Linked DNA regions of Homo sapiens. The protein of the gene in region 1 purifies or fractionates together with the protein of each later gene. This does not show direct contact. Each region holds a gene or a part of one and is shown in the gene's direction. Other genes may lie near its edges.

What was found. The genes of interacting proteins can lie anywhere in the genome.
Region 2: the proteins of MRPS6 (region 1) and NOA1 purify together in Homo sapiens (co-immunoprecipitation; 2 studies listed by BioGRID and IntAct, with this or other methods). This does not show direct contact.
Region 3: the proteins of MRPS6 (region 1) and ATAD3A purify together in Homo sapiens (tandem affinity purification; one large-scale study listed by IntAct). This does not show direct contact.
Region 4: the proteins of MRPS6 (region 1) and TRIP12 purify together in Homo sapiens (affinity purification with mass spectrometry; one large-scale study listed by BioGRID and IntAct). This does not show direct contact.

What each region holds. Positions count from the first base shown.
Region 1 is NC_000021.9:34,118,099-34,122,393, forward strand, and holds part of MRPS6 (small ribosomal subunit protein bS6m), read left to right. Parts: intron 1-4,295.
Region 2 is NC_000004.12:56,965,068-56,967,606, reverse strand, and holds part of NOA1 (nitric oxide-associated protein 1), read left to right. Parts: intron 1-870; coding exon 871-987; intron 988-2,539. UniProt on the Homo sapiens protein: Involved in regulation of mitochondrial protein translation and respiration. Plays a role in mitochondria-mediated cell death. May act as a scaffolding protein or stabilizer of respiratory chain supercomplexes. Binds GTP.
Region 3 is NC_000001.11:1,532,174-1,535,346, forward strand, and holds the end of ATAD3A (ATPase family AAA domain-containing protein 3A), read left to right. Parts: intron 1-1,752; coding exon 1,753-1,899; 3' UTR 1,900-2,512; downstream 2,513-3,173. UniProt on the Homo sapiens protein: Essential for mitochondrial network organization, mitochondrial metabolism and cell growth at organism and cellular level. May play an important role in mitochondrial protein synthesis. May also participate in mitochondrial DNA replication.
Region 4 is NC_000002.12:229,764,849-229,768,509, reverse strand, and holds part of TRIP12 (E3 ubiquitin-protein ligase TRIP12), read left to right. Parts: intron 1-759; coding exon 760-956; 3' UTR 957-3,661. UniProt on the Homo sapiens protein: E3 ubiquitin-protein ligase involved in ubiquitin fusion degradation (UFD) pathway and regulation of DNA repair.

The sequences.
Region 1 (4,295 bases):
CATTGGTTTATTCAAAGAGTTTTTCTCTGCATTACACTATTATTTTCTTACTACACTTTATGTACAGTTAGACCCTTGAACAGTGTAGGGGTATGCATAATTGAAAATCTGTGTGTAAACTTTGGACTCCCCAGAAACTTTACCAATAGCCTACTGTTGACCTGGAAGCCTTACCAATGTTATTTTGTATGTTATGTGTATTATATACTGTATTACAATAAAGTAAGCTAGAGAAAAAGCAAGTTTTTTTTTCCAAAATGTTGTGACTCTTCAAAAATTTTTCCAATATATTTATTGAATAAAATTCGCTTGTAAGTGGACCTACACAGTTTCAACCTGTATTGCTCCAGGGTCACTGTATTTTGGTTCCTGTCTCTTCTTTCCCCTCCCATTTACCTACTGTTTTAAAGCCTGTTAAGTCTTTATTCATTAGTTACTCCACATTTCTTTCTTTCTTTCTTTTTTTTTTTTTTTTTGAGACAGAGTCTCAGCTCACTACAACCTCCTTCTGGCTCAAGTAATTTTTGAGCCTCAGCCACCCGAGTAGTTGGGACTACAGGCATACACCACCACGCCTGGCTAATTTTTATATTTTCAGTAGAGATGGGGTTTCGCCATGTTGGCCAGGCTGGTCTCAAACTCCTGGCCTCAAGTGATCTGCCCGCCTTGGCATCCCAAAGTGCTGGGATTACAGGAAAGAACCACTGTGCCCAGCCTACTCCATGTTTCTTAAAAATGGCCTATATAATATGATTCATAAGCAAAGGAGTACAGCATTTAAATTTTAATAAGTGTTTTCTATCTTTGACCTTTACAAAGCCTATAAAGGTTACTTTTCTAGTCACTTCAAGTTATAACTTCAGGTTCAGGCCTGTAGAGGTAAGTAATCACATTTGAACATGTACTTAGGCATCTTTATGTTTCTTAGTGTTCTAGACTTGTCCTTATTGAATTTTATTCTAATTTAAAAAGTAGTTTCTGTGTTCGATAATTTTTATTCCTTAATTACCTAGAGGACTGAAACTCCTGATTCAATAAATTGTTGGGCAAAAGAGGTTCTCTACAATGAAGAATATTTGATCAAACAGTTCCTGTGGAATCAATTTCATAGTTGGGCTTTGCTTATGTCATTAGGCAAGGCTGGCACTTCACATATTTTTATGTAGATGGTTCTCCCAAGGTCTGCTAGAACTTCAGCCACTTTCCATGACACCCATTTGACTGTTGAAAAGTTAGGGCTCACAGATTTTCAGATTGCTGTGAGAATGTCAATGCAGAATTCACAGGGACAGCCTTTCTATTTGAAAATTTAAATTGCAAGGAAATTTTTTAAAGGAAGTAAGATTTGGAATTAAGATTCAGCAAAGAATGGGAAAGACTTTTACATGTACATTTTCACAGGTTTTGACAGTTCTGTGTCTTGGCTCTACCTTCCCTGAGTCCTGCCTGCTCTTGAGTGTTGTATAACTCTTTGTAACGTGAGGCGGGCAGGGTGTAGGTAGATGCTGCATGCTGTTGAATGTTGTGGATTCTATGTGTGCTTTATTTTCTGGGGAACTAGGGTGTGGTAGTGCTAGCTGGGTATATTGGAGGCCACTGGCTTAAAACTGTCTTTCCCATAGAGTCTAATTTCTAAGATAATTTTGTTGACAAGTTTCTCTTCTGGGATGAAAATATGTTTAATTAGGTTAAACGTTGGTCATTGACTAGTGGTGGTGGTTATGATACTTCCATGAATTCTTAGCTTCAGTAACCTTCCTGAGTGGGGATTTTATTTGGGGGACAAGGAGAGATTCCTTTCTTCCTTTCATTCTTCCCACCTTTTTGCTCTCATCTTTTACTACAGCAACTTTTCCCATTAGCATCTCTAGAACTGTGGTTTTCAAAATATGGTTTGAGGACTCTTGGGCTTTACGGGGGACCCTTTTAGAAGATCATTGTGAAAACAGTAGTGAGTAGAACAGCTGGTACGTTAGCATGAATCTAGTCAGCAGCATTAACTTTTCCTAGCAGTACGTGTATTCTTCATTGCTATGCAGTTGCAGTTTTCAAAACTGGCTTCACTGCAGAATGTCCTTCAGAATGATGAGTGGTACCAGAGTAGTATTTAGTCTTGGTAGGGGCTTTAAGAAGTTGTTGAGTTCAACCTCCCACCCATGCAGATATTAATCCAACAGCCATCCTGTATCTATTTATGTACTTCAAGTGATGGGAAGGTCACTACTTCACAAGGCAGCCCACTGCATTTTCATACAGCTGTATATTTTTGGAAATATGTTCTTGTTTACAAAATACAGCTTGATTTCTCTAATTTTTACCCTTTGATTCTAGTCCACTCTTGGAATCCAATCAAAATAAAACAAATCTACCTTTTGCATAATAGCCCTGCAAATATTTGAAGTTAGCTCTTGGGTTTTCCCTAAGTCTTTTGTAGGCTAAACATTAGTTTTGGTAATTAATATAAAAAATTAGCTTTAATTTCTTCTAGGATTAATTACCTTTTTTATAAGTATTATACTATTTCGTTAAATTTTTGGATAGTACTTTATCTTACCTAATCAGCAAATAATTATAATGTAATTTTAACATTTATATTTATATGTGTATTGGAATTTGATATTTGAAATGTATAAAATATTTAATTAATTTCACTTCTAGATGAATTGTAGGTATTTTTGAAATACAGTATTGGTGTGAACAGCATTTTGGTACTGCGTGAAGTAAATGGGAAAACATTAGTATTGTAATTTTGCCTCAGTGTTACAGTTACCACCTTGATAGTGAGCTTTGTTGTATATGAAAAGTGGCTTCAAGTTATGTTAGAGATAGAAGGAAACTTAGAGTTCCTTGAGGAAAGATAGGAGTAAGTAAGCAAGAGACCCTCTTAAAGGAGGTACAATTAGCACAGCTATTTCTAGCACCTGTTCGATGAGTGTGGCCCATTTTAGACGTTGGGAATACAGTCATGTACAAGATAGACAAAGGTCCTTGCTCCTCTGTAGCTTACATTCTGGTTAGTGAAAGAATATTTTTAGATTGCTGTAGTGCTGTTAGAAGTAAAAAAAGAATGACATCAGGAGAACTGGGGGATGGAGGTGCATTTTGGTGATGAAGATATCAGAATTGGGGGGCATAAAAAGACTTTCATCAAACTTTGTTGTGCCTCCAGCAGATGTTGAGAATTGCAGTATGAATGTTGTTTATTCATGTGAAGCTTGTAGCAACAGGAAAATCGAGAACTACTAATTTAGCAGATGAGGAAACTGAGGTACAAGTTTAAAATTGATAAATTTTAATAACATATTCAGGTTTGTATAACTCATTAGTGAATGAGCTAGGACTAGAATCATAGTCCTAGTTTTTCTAGTTTCCATTCCCATTCATTCATTCCTTTCTTTCTGTATTTTTTTTTCAAATGAATGTTTTCAGCCCTCAGTCTGTGCCTTGCCAAAGTGTGTTTCATTGATGCATTTGGTAGGTAGAAGGAAAGAGTTGAAGGAGTTGCTTTCAGATGGGGTGAGAGAAGCCTCTCAGAAGCCTGCACAACTTCTCTTAGAATAGTTGGAATTGAGTGGTTCAGAGACTTTATAAATGAGAATTATGGCAGCAAGATCATTTGTTTCCTGTAAACTATATGCTTTTGTAAGTTGAACATTGTGCTGGATTGAGCAGAACTTTTTCCCCTCTAAGCGTAAGAATTTTATTTTAATAGATCTATAGGTTTCACCAAATGAGGAACATTGAAGTTGGCAACCTGGGTTGATAAAGACATTATTAGGAGCTTGGCAGATGGAATAGTGGATTAGTGGAATCAGTTCTGAGCCCTGCAGTGAGTTGAACAGCTCAACTGATGGTATTCGTTAGATGGTACCCGATGTGTCTACCTGATGACACATCCAGTGAGGAATACACCCTCTATACGTCAGTCAGTGGCCCAGGCTCATGGTTTTATTTGTGGTGCATTTTAGGGTACATGGATTAAGGACCTGCCAGCTTCCCTCAGCCCATCACAATATAGAACCAGGGGTTGGCCAGATAGTAAATAGTTTAGGCTCTGGGGCCATGTGGTCTCTTGTAATTACAGATCTACCTTTAGCACAGAAGTAGCCATAGACACTATGCAGATGTGTGAGTTGGCTGTGTTCCAGTTCAACTTTATTTGCAAATACAGGTAGCAAGCCAGATTTGGCCCAAGAGCCCTGGTTTGCCAACCCTGCTTTATGGTGAGGTAAGGTCTATGGGGCGTTATTTTTGCTCCTCCTTCCACCTTTCGTTTTATACTTCTGGGTGTTTTG
Region 2 (2,539 bases), on another chromosome or scaffold:
GTGAAGAGAAAAAGGAAAATGAAACATGGATATGGATATGTCCAACAACACAATACAACTGTGTGCCATTACTATAGCACATTTCTTGGGTTTTGTGTTTGCTCATACTTTGTTAGAAATTTTGCCTTACACACTTAGAACCCTTATATATTTCGTTTTGGGAGGTTGTTGGTTTTTTGCTTTTGGGGTTGGTTTTTTGTTTTTTTGTTTTTTTGTTTTTTTTTTTTGAAACAGCATCTCTCTCTGTTGCCCAGACTGGAGTGCAGTGGTACAGTCACGGCTCACTGTGGCCTCAACCTCCTGGGCTCCAATGATCATCCCACCCCAGCCCCGCAAGTAGTCGGGACTACAGGCACACATCACCACACCCAGCTAATTTTTGTATTTTTTATAGAGACAGGGTTTTGCCATGTTTCCCAGGCTGGTCTCAAACTTGAGCTCAAGGGATTCACCCACCTCGGCCTTCCAAAATGCTGGGATTATAGGCATGAGCCACCACACCAGGCTTGCACCCTTATATATTTCATCAGAACACATAAAATGTTAATATTTTAAACCTAACTTTACACAGAGACAATTAAAGCAGATAGTATTTCCTTTTAATTTTTAATAATAGACTTTTTTCAAAAATAGTATTGGGTCTGTCAAAGAAGTCATAGTTTCACATGAATTGCTGAAATGCACTGCTTCAGTATTGTGCCCCTGTTCTTAGTAATAATTTGATTTACAGCTACTGCCATACCAGTACTTATAAAGGGAGTCTGATTGGGTTTTTGTTTTTTGGTTTGTTTTTTTTTTAGTTGATTGTACCTTGAATATGCAGGTTTTCCAAGTTTTTCACCAGGTCAGATAACTTCTTCCTTTCTTAAGGGAAATCAGTCAGCTTGGTTTACAGTCGTGGCTTCCAACATCCTCCCTGTGCATATCACCTCCTTGGACAGGGCAGACGCTCTGTATCAGAAGCATGCAGGTCATACGTTACTCCAGGTAAGGCAACATGCCTTGATTGCATGGTTATGGTTAGTATACACTGGGATGGTCCCATAGCTCTGTTAAGAAAGCCTTTGTTGTACAGAACTGTTATACAATATCTTGAGCTAGCTTTCCCTCACCTCATTCTCTTTGAGAATTCTGGCTATAAAGCAAAATTGCTCTATATAGACTGATCCTAGAATAGCCACACAGCTATTTTTTTCTCTAGACTACACTGTCCAATTTGGTAGCCATTAGCCCACATGTGGCTAAGTTTAAATATATTAGTGACAATTAAAATTTGCTCAGTGGCCAGGTGTGGTGGCTCACGCCTATAATCCCAGCACTTTGGGAGGCCAAGGCAGATGGATCACAAGGTCAGGAGTTCAAGACCAGCCTGGCCAAGATGGTGAAACCCCATCTCTACTAAAAATACAAAAATTAGCCAGGCGTGGTGATGGGTGCCTGTAATCCCAGCCACTCAGAAGGCTGAGGCAGGAGAATCACTTGAACCAGAGCGGCAGAGGTTGCAGTGAGCCAAGATCGCGCTACTGCGCTACTGCACTCCAGCCTGGGCAACAGAGACTCCATCTCAAAAAAAAAAAAAAAAAAAAAAGAAAATTTGCTCAAGTTAGCCAGGTATGGTGGCATGCACCTGTAATCCCAGCTCCTCGAGAGGTTAAGGCAGGAGGACCACTTGAGCCCAGGAGTATGAGGCTGTGGTGAGCCATGATTATGCCACTGCACTCTAGCCTGGGTGACAGAGTGAAACCCTGTCTCTAAAAAAAAAAAAAAAAAAGGGAAAATTTAAAATATGGTTGCTTAGTGTCACCAGCCACATTTTGAGTGCCCAATAGTGACATTGTTGCAAAAAGTTGTATAAACTCCTGACAGCCTCATCACCAATACACACACACACACACACACACACACACACACACCATACTTTGGACAATTAAGCTATAGTTCCCCGAACTCATCATCCTTTTTCCAGTTTTTATCTGTACCTGTGGCGACCGAAAATATCTTTCCACCAAATAACTTTGACTCATTTCTCAAAATATTGCTCATATATTGCTTGTTTTTGTTATATATATATAGCTTCTTTACTAATGTTTTCCTTGACTGAACACATTCATTACTCCTTCCTTCACAACCATAGTACTTATAGATGCCTCACATTACATTTCTGACCTTGTATTAGCTTACATATTATCTACCCCTTTGATTTCCTTGGGGGCAGAAACCATACTGCAAAATCTATCTTTGTGTTCTTAGTGCTAAACACAGGAGAGATTTGCTAATGAATAGATGAATAAATTACCCAGTTACAGCCAAGCGCAGTGGCTCACACCTGTAATCCCAGCACTTTGGGAGGCCGAGGTGGGCAGATCACCTTGAGGTCAGGAGTTTGAGACCAGCCTGGCTAACATGGTGAAACCCTGTTTCTACTAAAAATACAAAAAAATTGGCCTGGTATGGTGGTGCGCGCCTGTAATCCCAGTTACTCGGGAGGCTGAGACAAGAGAATCACTTGAGCCTTGGAGGCGGAGGTTGCAGTGAGCTG
Region 3 (3,173 bases), on another chromosome or scaffold:
TACTCCTGAATTGGTTTTGCTGGCATTTTGTTGAGGACTTTTCCAACGATGCTTATCAGGGATATTGGCATGTCATTTTTCTTGTGGTGTCTTTGTCTGGCTTTGATATGAGGGTAATGCTGGCCTCTTAGGATGAGTGAGGAAATGTTCTTCAATTTGTCCAAGAGTTTGAGGAGTGATACTGATTCTTCTTAATGTTTTGTGAATTCACATGTGAAGACATCAGGTCCAGGTCTTGTCTTTCAACTTTTATAGTTTGAAGATTTTAGGTTCCCAGAAAAGTTGCAAGAGTAGCACAGAGACTTCCTGGGCCTGGGACCTTGCCACGTGGTGAACATCATGTGTCACTGTTGGACCCACCTGTGACTGGGTTTTGCCCCAGAATCCCACCCAGGACGCCACGTGACATTTAGCTGTCACTTCTGGTGGGCTCCTGCCAGGTCCCGTGCTTCCTGGAGGGGTGGCCCCGTGAGCATCTGCATAGCCCCTTTCCTCTGCTGGGCCCTGGGTGGGGTGCAGCCACTCGGGTGGACCCTGAGGGTCCCTGCACCTGTTTGCCCTCTCTTGGGTGCGCTCAAGACCAAAAATGATGTTGAGCAGTCCTGGGCCCCGGACCCACAGTGGTGGTGCGGCTCTGGTCAGTGTCTCCTGCGCTCCCAGGCCCCTGACCCACAGTGGCGGTGCGGCTCTGGTCAGTGTCTCCTGCACTCCGGGGCCCCTGACCCACAGTGGCGGTGCGGCTCCGGTCAGTGTCTCCTGCGCTCCCGGGCCCCCGACCCACAGTGGTGGTCCGGCTCCGGTCAGTGTCTCCCCACACAGTGGCTCTTGGTGAGGGGTGGGCGCTTGCAGAGGGGACGGGCACCACGTGGTCATCCCCATGGCAGGTTCCGTCGTGGCGACGGTGTTGTGGGAGGATGGTGTGCTGCTGCCCCTGCACCCCGTGAGATGAATCCTGCCTCTGGGAGGTACAGCTGGGACGGGGCGAGGGACCCACTCAGCTGTCCAGGAAGGGTCCCCTGCCCTGTGCTTCCTCCAGGTGTCCTGGTGCGCTCCTGAGCACGGTGCCCAGTGGGGGTCCCCACACCCTGACCCTGACCCTGACCCACGGGTGCCTCCCCTTGGGGACTCCACGCCCTTCGCTGGCATTGGGATGGAGAGTGACCCGTTCATTGCAGAAGGGCTGGACCTGAGGCTGCCTGAAGCCACACCAAGGGCCACAGCCCCAGCAGCTCCAGCCTTCACGTGCCAGATGCCAAGCCCTGTGCTCAGGAGGACAGGGAGGTGGGGGCAGAGGTGGCCTTGGTGCCACCACTCATGTGCCTCAAGGTGGGCAGTGGCTGCCTCTGCCCTGGAGGCCTGTGAGGGTCAGGGTCTGAGGGTCTGAGGTGCACTATGACCCGGGGGCACTGCCTGGCCACGGCTGAGACTCGCAGAGGGTCTGCAGTTCCCACCTGCCTCTCGGAAGCTGCCCTGGGTCGGCGGTCAGTGAGGCTCCGCCTTGGGCTTTCTATTATTAGAAAGTCATTGAGCAACAGCAGTGCTGAGGACGCAGGCAGGGCTGTGGGCACTGCAGGGGCTGCTCCCGGTGTCCACACACGTGCTGGGCTCTGCCGAGGTGCGGGAAGCCTGTGTTTCACGCTCAGGCCATCCTGGAGCCCCTGGTTTGGTCCCTCCCCACCTCGGGGCCCTGGCGTGCATTTGGGGTGGGGGGTTCCCATGGCGGCCTCCCTCAGCTGCCTCTCTCCCCACTAGGCCACGGCGTATGCCTCCGAGGACGGGGTCCTGACCGAGGCCATGATGGACACCCGCGTGCAAGATGCTGTCCAGCAGCACCAGCAGAAGATGTGCTGGCTGAAGGCGGAAGGGCCTGGGCGTGGGGACGAGCCCTCCCCATCCTGAGTCCACAGGGAGATCCACAGCTCACGGAGCCTGGCCGCGGACCCCTCCCACCCCTGCCTTGCCGGCCCCTGCACATTTAGGATATGCTCCTGGGTGGGGACTGGGCTGTGCCCAGGGCCTCTGTCCCCCAGGATGTCTTGTGGTGCGGGTCGGCCGTTCTGCCCCCCAGGGCACCCCCTGTTGTAGGCACTGGCTAGGGAGGGGCAGGCCTCCTTCCTGCCCCTCGAGACACTCTTGGGAGATGCATTTTCCGTCTGGCTCACAGGGGGAGGGTGAGGCTTTGCACCCCAGCCCCTGCCCAGGCCACTGTGAGGGTGGGTGCTGGCTGAGCCCCCGGGGCAGCAGGAGCCAGGCAGGTGATGTCTTTGTTCTCGGCTCCCACAGCAGAGCCAGGTGAGGGGGCGCCTGCCAGGGCCAGACCCAGGTGGGGCAGCCTGAACCCTGCTTCCCCCTGTGGCCGGCATGCCCCGATCTTTCACACACTGGTGACCCTGAGAGAGGAGGGAGGAGGGAACCTGGCGGGGGTGTCTGAGGCCGCACTGTCAGCTGGCCGGTCCAAGCCTGTGGCTGGAGCTGGGGTCTGTTTACCTAATAAAGTCCCACAGGTGCCTCATTGCCCTGTCTGTCTCTTGGCTGGCACGGGGTGGGGTTTTGGGGGCCTCCTAGCGTCCCCCTGGGGTCAAAGGTGACAGAAGAGGCGGAGGCTGGCGCTTTCTGGAGAATTTACTGACCACAGAGGGGTGGGCTTCACATGAGTGCCCGCCACTGCGGGGCCAGGGGCCTGAATGCTGCCTGGGCCCAGCCACCTGCACCCCACCCTGTGGCTGTGCACACGCGGGTGCTCCCCTCGCCCCCCTCCCCTCCGCCCAAGCTGGCTGGGGCCAGACAGACGGTGGACGCAGCGCACGGGAAACAGCGCCTTCAAACAGATGCTGGCCCGGGCCGCGCGCCTCGCCGCCCCTGCCCCCACCTGCCCCCCAGGACCCTCCCTGCCCCCCAGGACCCTCCCTGCCCCCCAGCACCGCTGGGGATGAGTCCGCCCTTGTGTCCTGCCCCCCAACTGCAGGGTCTCCCCTAACCCAACCCCCACCCTAGCCCACACCCCAACCCCCTTTATAAAAAGAAGAGACAGCACCTTCCACTGGACTCTCCCGGCCGGCCACAGCCCCGGACAACCTGGGCCCAGGGCTGCTGTCCAGTCCCGCCGGCCCGGGCGTCCACGAGGTCCCTTTTACATCTGTACAGCAGCCGGTTGGCTCGGTGGCCCCGGTAAG
Region 4 (3,661 bases), on another chromosome or scaffold:
TCTTAGTTATTCCAGTATCATTATAGTACATTGAGACCACTAGCAGGGAAATCCATGGGGATTGTCTTAAACATATTGAAGTAGGATTACTAATGCACATGTAATGCTGGTTAGATAAAATTCCAGGCCATTTGTACATTCTAAACTCTTAGTTGACTTAGATGAGAATGGATTCTAAAATCTGGTTTTTCAGATTGAATCCTAATGTAAGTTAAATTGGTATTCTGTTGTTTTTGTTTTGTTTTTTGAGACAGGATCTCACTCTTGTCACCCAGGCTGAAGTGCAGTGGCGTGATCTTGGCTCACTGCAACCTCTGCCTCCTGGGCTCAGGCGAGATCCTCCTGCTTCAGCCTCCTGTGTAGCTGGGACTACAGGCACAACACAGCACCATGTCTGGCTAATTTTTGTATTTTTGTAGAGATAGGGTTTCTCCATGTTTCCCAGGCTGGTCTGAAACTCTCAAGCGACTGGCTCACCTCGGCCTCCCAGAGTGCTGGGATTACGGGCGTGAACCACTGTGGGTATTCCATTTTAAAAATCAGAAGACATAAAGAACTGTTGCCTCCATGTTATACAGCGAGTTTTTAAATGATAAATTAAAGCAGGTTCCTTGCACTTAATGTATATTGAATGTGCAATTGCCAAGCAAGAAAGAATATCTTGTGTGTAATATTGTACGGCAAAGCAGTGGAATGTTTTCTGATAGCTGATGTTTTTTAAAAACTTAAGTTCCTTGTCTTTCTTTTTCTCTTAATCAGGATTCCGGAGTTTGAATCCACCTTTGACAATTGTCCGAAAGACGTTTGAATCAACAGAAAACCCAGATGACTTCTTGCCCTCTGTAATGACTTGTGTGAACTATCTTAAGTTGCCGGACTATTCAAGCATTGAGATAATGCGTGAAAAACTGTTGATAGCAGCAAGAGAAGGGCAGCAGTCGTTCCATCTTTCCTGATCATAGCAAGAAATGCAGTGTCTGCCTGTTACAGCAAAAGAAACAAATCATGATTTCTTTTCTAATGTTATCACCTGAGTCAAGGAAACATGTTACGCCTTCTTGTTGTAGGAAAAACGGCTTGCAGATTATAAAGAGACATTTGGTTGATATTCATTAATGGCCCCATGGACTTAAAGTGATCAGGCCCTAAAACGTTGTTGTGATGAGGTTTCTTTAGCAAGTTCTTGTTTAAATTATCATTTATTTGATGAGTGAAGTTTTTAACATGCTTTGCTGTGTGAAATTTAAAAAAGGGATGTTTTTCCAGGCTGGAACAATAAATGTGGCTGTGCAGTTTAATTCTGGGCTGTGTGTATCCATCTAGCTAAGTCTGCAGTTTTCTTTCCTCCAAAGACAACTCTTGTACATAAGTACAGAAATTTAAGCTCACATGTATTTGACAAATATAGTTTAGTAGACTAGCTCTATGTGCTTTTCACTTTCCTCTGATTTTCTCTCCCTGATTCATTATTATCTGTGCAGCTCACAGTTTTTTTTTTGTATACAACTCACAGTTCTCAAATTTTCGTTACCCATGGGCTTCTGTTGTCCCATGTTCTCTCCAGTTAAGATCTAATTTAAAATTCATTGGATTGAAATTTATTGAATATAATTCAGCTTTTGTAACTAGGTAGACTTTTCTTATAGTTTAGTTTTAATATAGTTTAGGGTATTACTGGCTTTTTCCCAGGTGACACACTAAGGACTGTTTACATGGCAATTCCAGCAGCAACAGCCTCTGGAATGAGACAAGGAAAGCTCATTTGTTTCTTTTATGAAGGTTAAGAAGTCTACAGCTTGGGCTGGCCGGTATTTATTATTCTGTGGCCAGAGGATTTTAAATTAATGTAAATTTTTTAAACAAAATAAGCAGTTTTCCTTCCCTGTTGGAGTAAAAAAATTTTTTTCCCTTTGTTGTTTTACGTTTTTGTTCATAGTCTTCTTTATTCCACGCTCCTCTTCCCCTTCTCCCAGTGCTGACTTGGGACAAAACAGTTCAGCCTTTGTCTCGACGCAGATAAAAGCACCTGTAAGCAATGCTGTCCAGTCATTTTATGTGCTGATTTCTCAAATCTGCAATAATCCATCAGGTTAATGTTTTTACCTGAAAATAAAGAAAGTTTGCTTCACCTTTTTGTTTATAGTTTTGTGCTGTATGCATAACTTTCAATTGTATAGATGTATTTCAATGCAAGGAAATCCACATATCTCCATGATTCGGGTCATGGCTGATTTTGCTATTCAAACAATTTATAATAGCAACTTGAAGAAACTAAAATGTGAAGAGAAAATGGGAGGAGATTCCTTCCTAAGGTCCAAAACTAGGCCTGTGGCATAAATTTGAAGGAATTTTCCATAATTCATCTCCTTGAAAATAAGAGATGAGCTAGTTTTTTTTTTTAATTGAACTTTGAGAAATCAATTTTTTTGACTGTTCTGTAAGTTTTAATTAATTGACACAAAAGCCCTTTTCCCTATCCCACCACCCAAAAGAAACTCAGTGGCTTGTTTGACATAGATTGCTGTGTCAATTTACACTTAAATGGCCTTATATGGAAATGTCCCCTCCTGAGAGTTCACTTGGGCAGTGACCCCATTAAGTGGAAGGGAACTGTCAGAGGAGTTGGGGGCAGAGAATTCTCTCCCTGTCTCTGCAGAGACTGACAAGTGAATGGCTTTTCCCTGAAATCCAAGAAGGGAATTGTGTTTCTGCAGTTTTCACCACTAACAGCACAGTTGCTGAGCAGCTTCATCAAGTGAAGTTAAAGACTGAAACAATTTGTTTTCAACTGTTCTGATATCTTCCTGCAAATTAAGCACAAGGATTTTTGTGTGAACATAGCATTTTGTTCCTGATTTTTAAAGGGTTCTGTTAAAATTTAGACATGTATAAACAAAATAATGTTTCATCTGTACTTGACATTTTATCCATGTTGCAGCCCTGGCAAATTTGGCCTCATTGATTCCAGCATCTAATAAGTATATATGATGATTTTGACTCAAACTCTAAAGTCTTGAGTGTTTCAAAGTCAGTCGTTACCTGTTTAAAAGCCTCAGCCTTTAGCTTATTCCTCCTTCAATACACGGGACCTTTGGTTAATTTGGGGCAGGAAAACTCTTAAAGTAATCTCTCTTGGCAGAGGCCTTATTGCACCAGAGGGAAAAAGTATATACTTCATTTGCTGTTACTCCAGTTATGCCTTAAATTCATTTGCTTGGTAATCCTATCAACGAGCACTAACTTCTTAGTATACTTTAAACACTTAGTTGGGTAACAACTGAGATTTTGTTGTCCTTTATTTTTTGCTGAGATGGAGTCAGTCAGATGTTAGTCATAGCTAACACCGAATTTGTGTTGTCATTTAGACAGTTACTGATTCGATCTGCTTTATATATGAGAACGTATTTTTAACTATTCCAAGAAGGAAGAGGTAGCTAAATGTAATCCCCTCTTCCTATCCCCCCAGAAAACTGAACTGTAAGTTCTAGGTAGACTAATTGGGAGCAGACACGGAGTTTTAGATGCCTTAGCCAAACCCAGCAGAAACCTTTCACACAGCCACTCATCGTAAGAAACGCAGATTTTTCTCTTCTCATGCTTGTCTCTGGTTCCCTGCATTTGTAGTGACAGAACTTTCACTAGCAGGATATAAAGAAAGTAA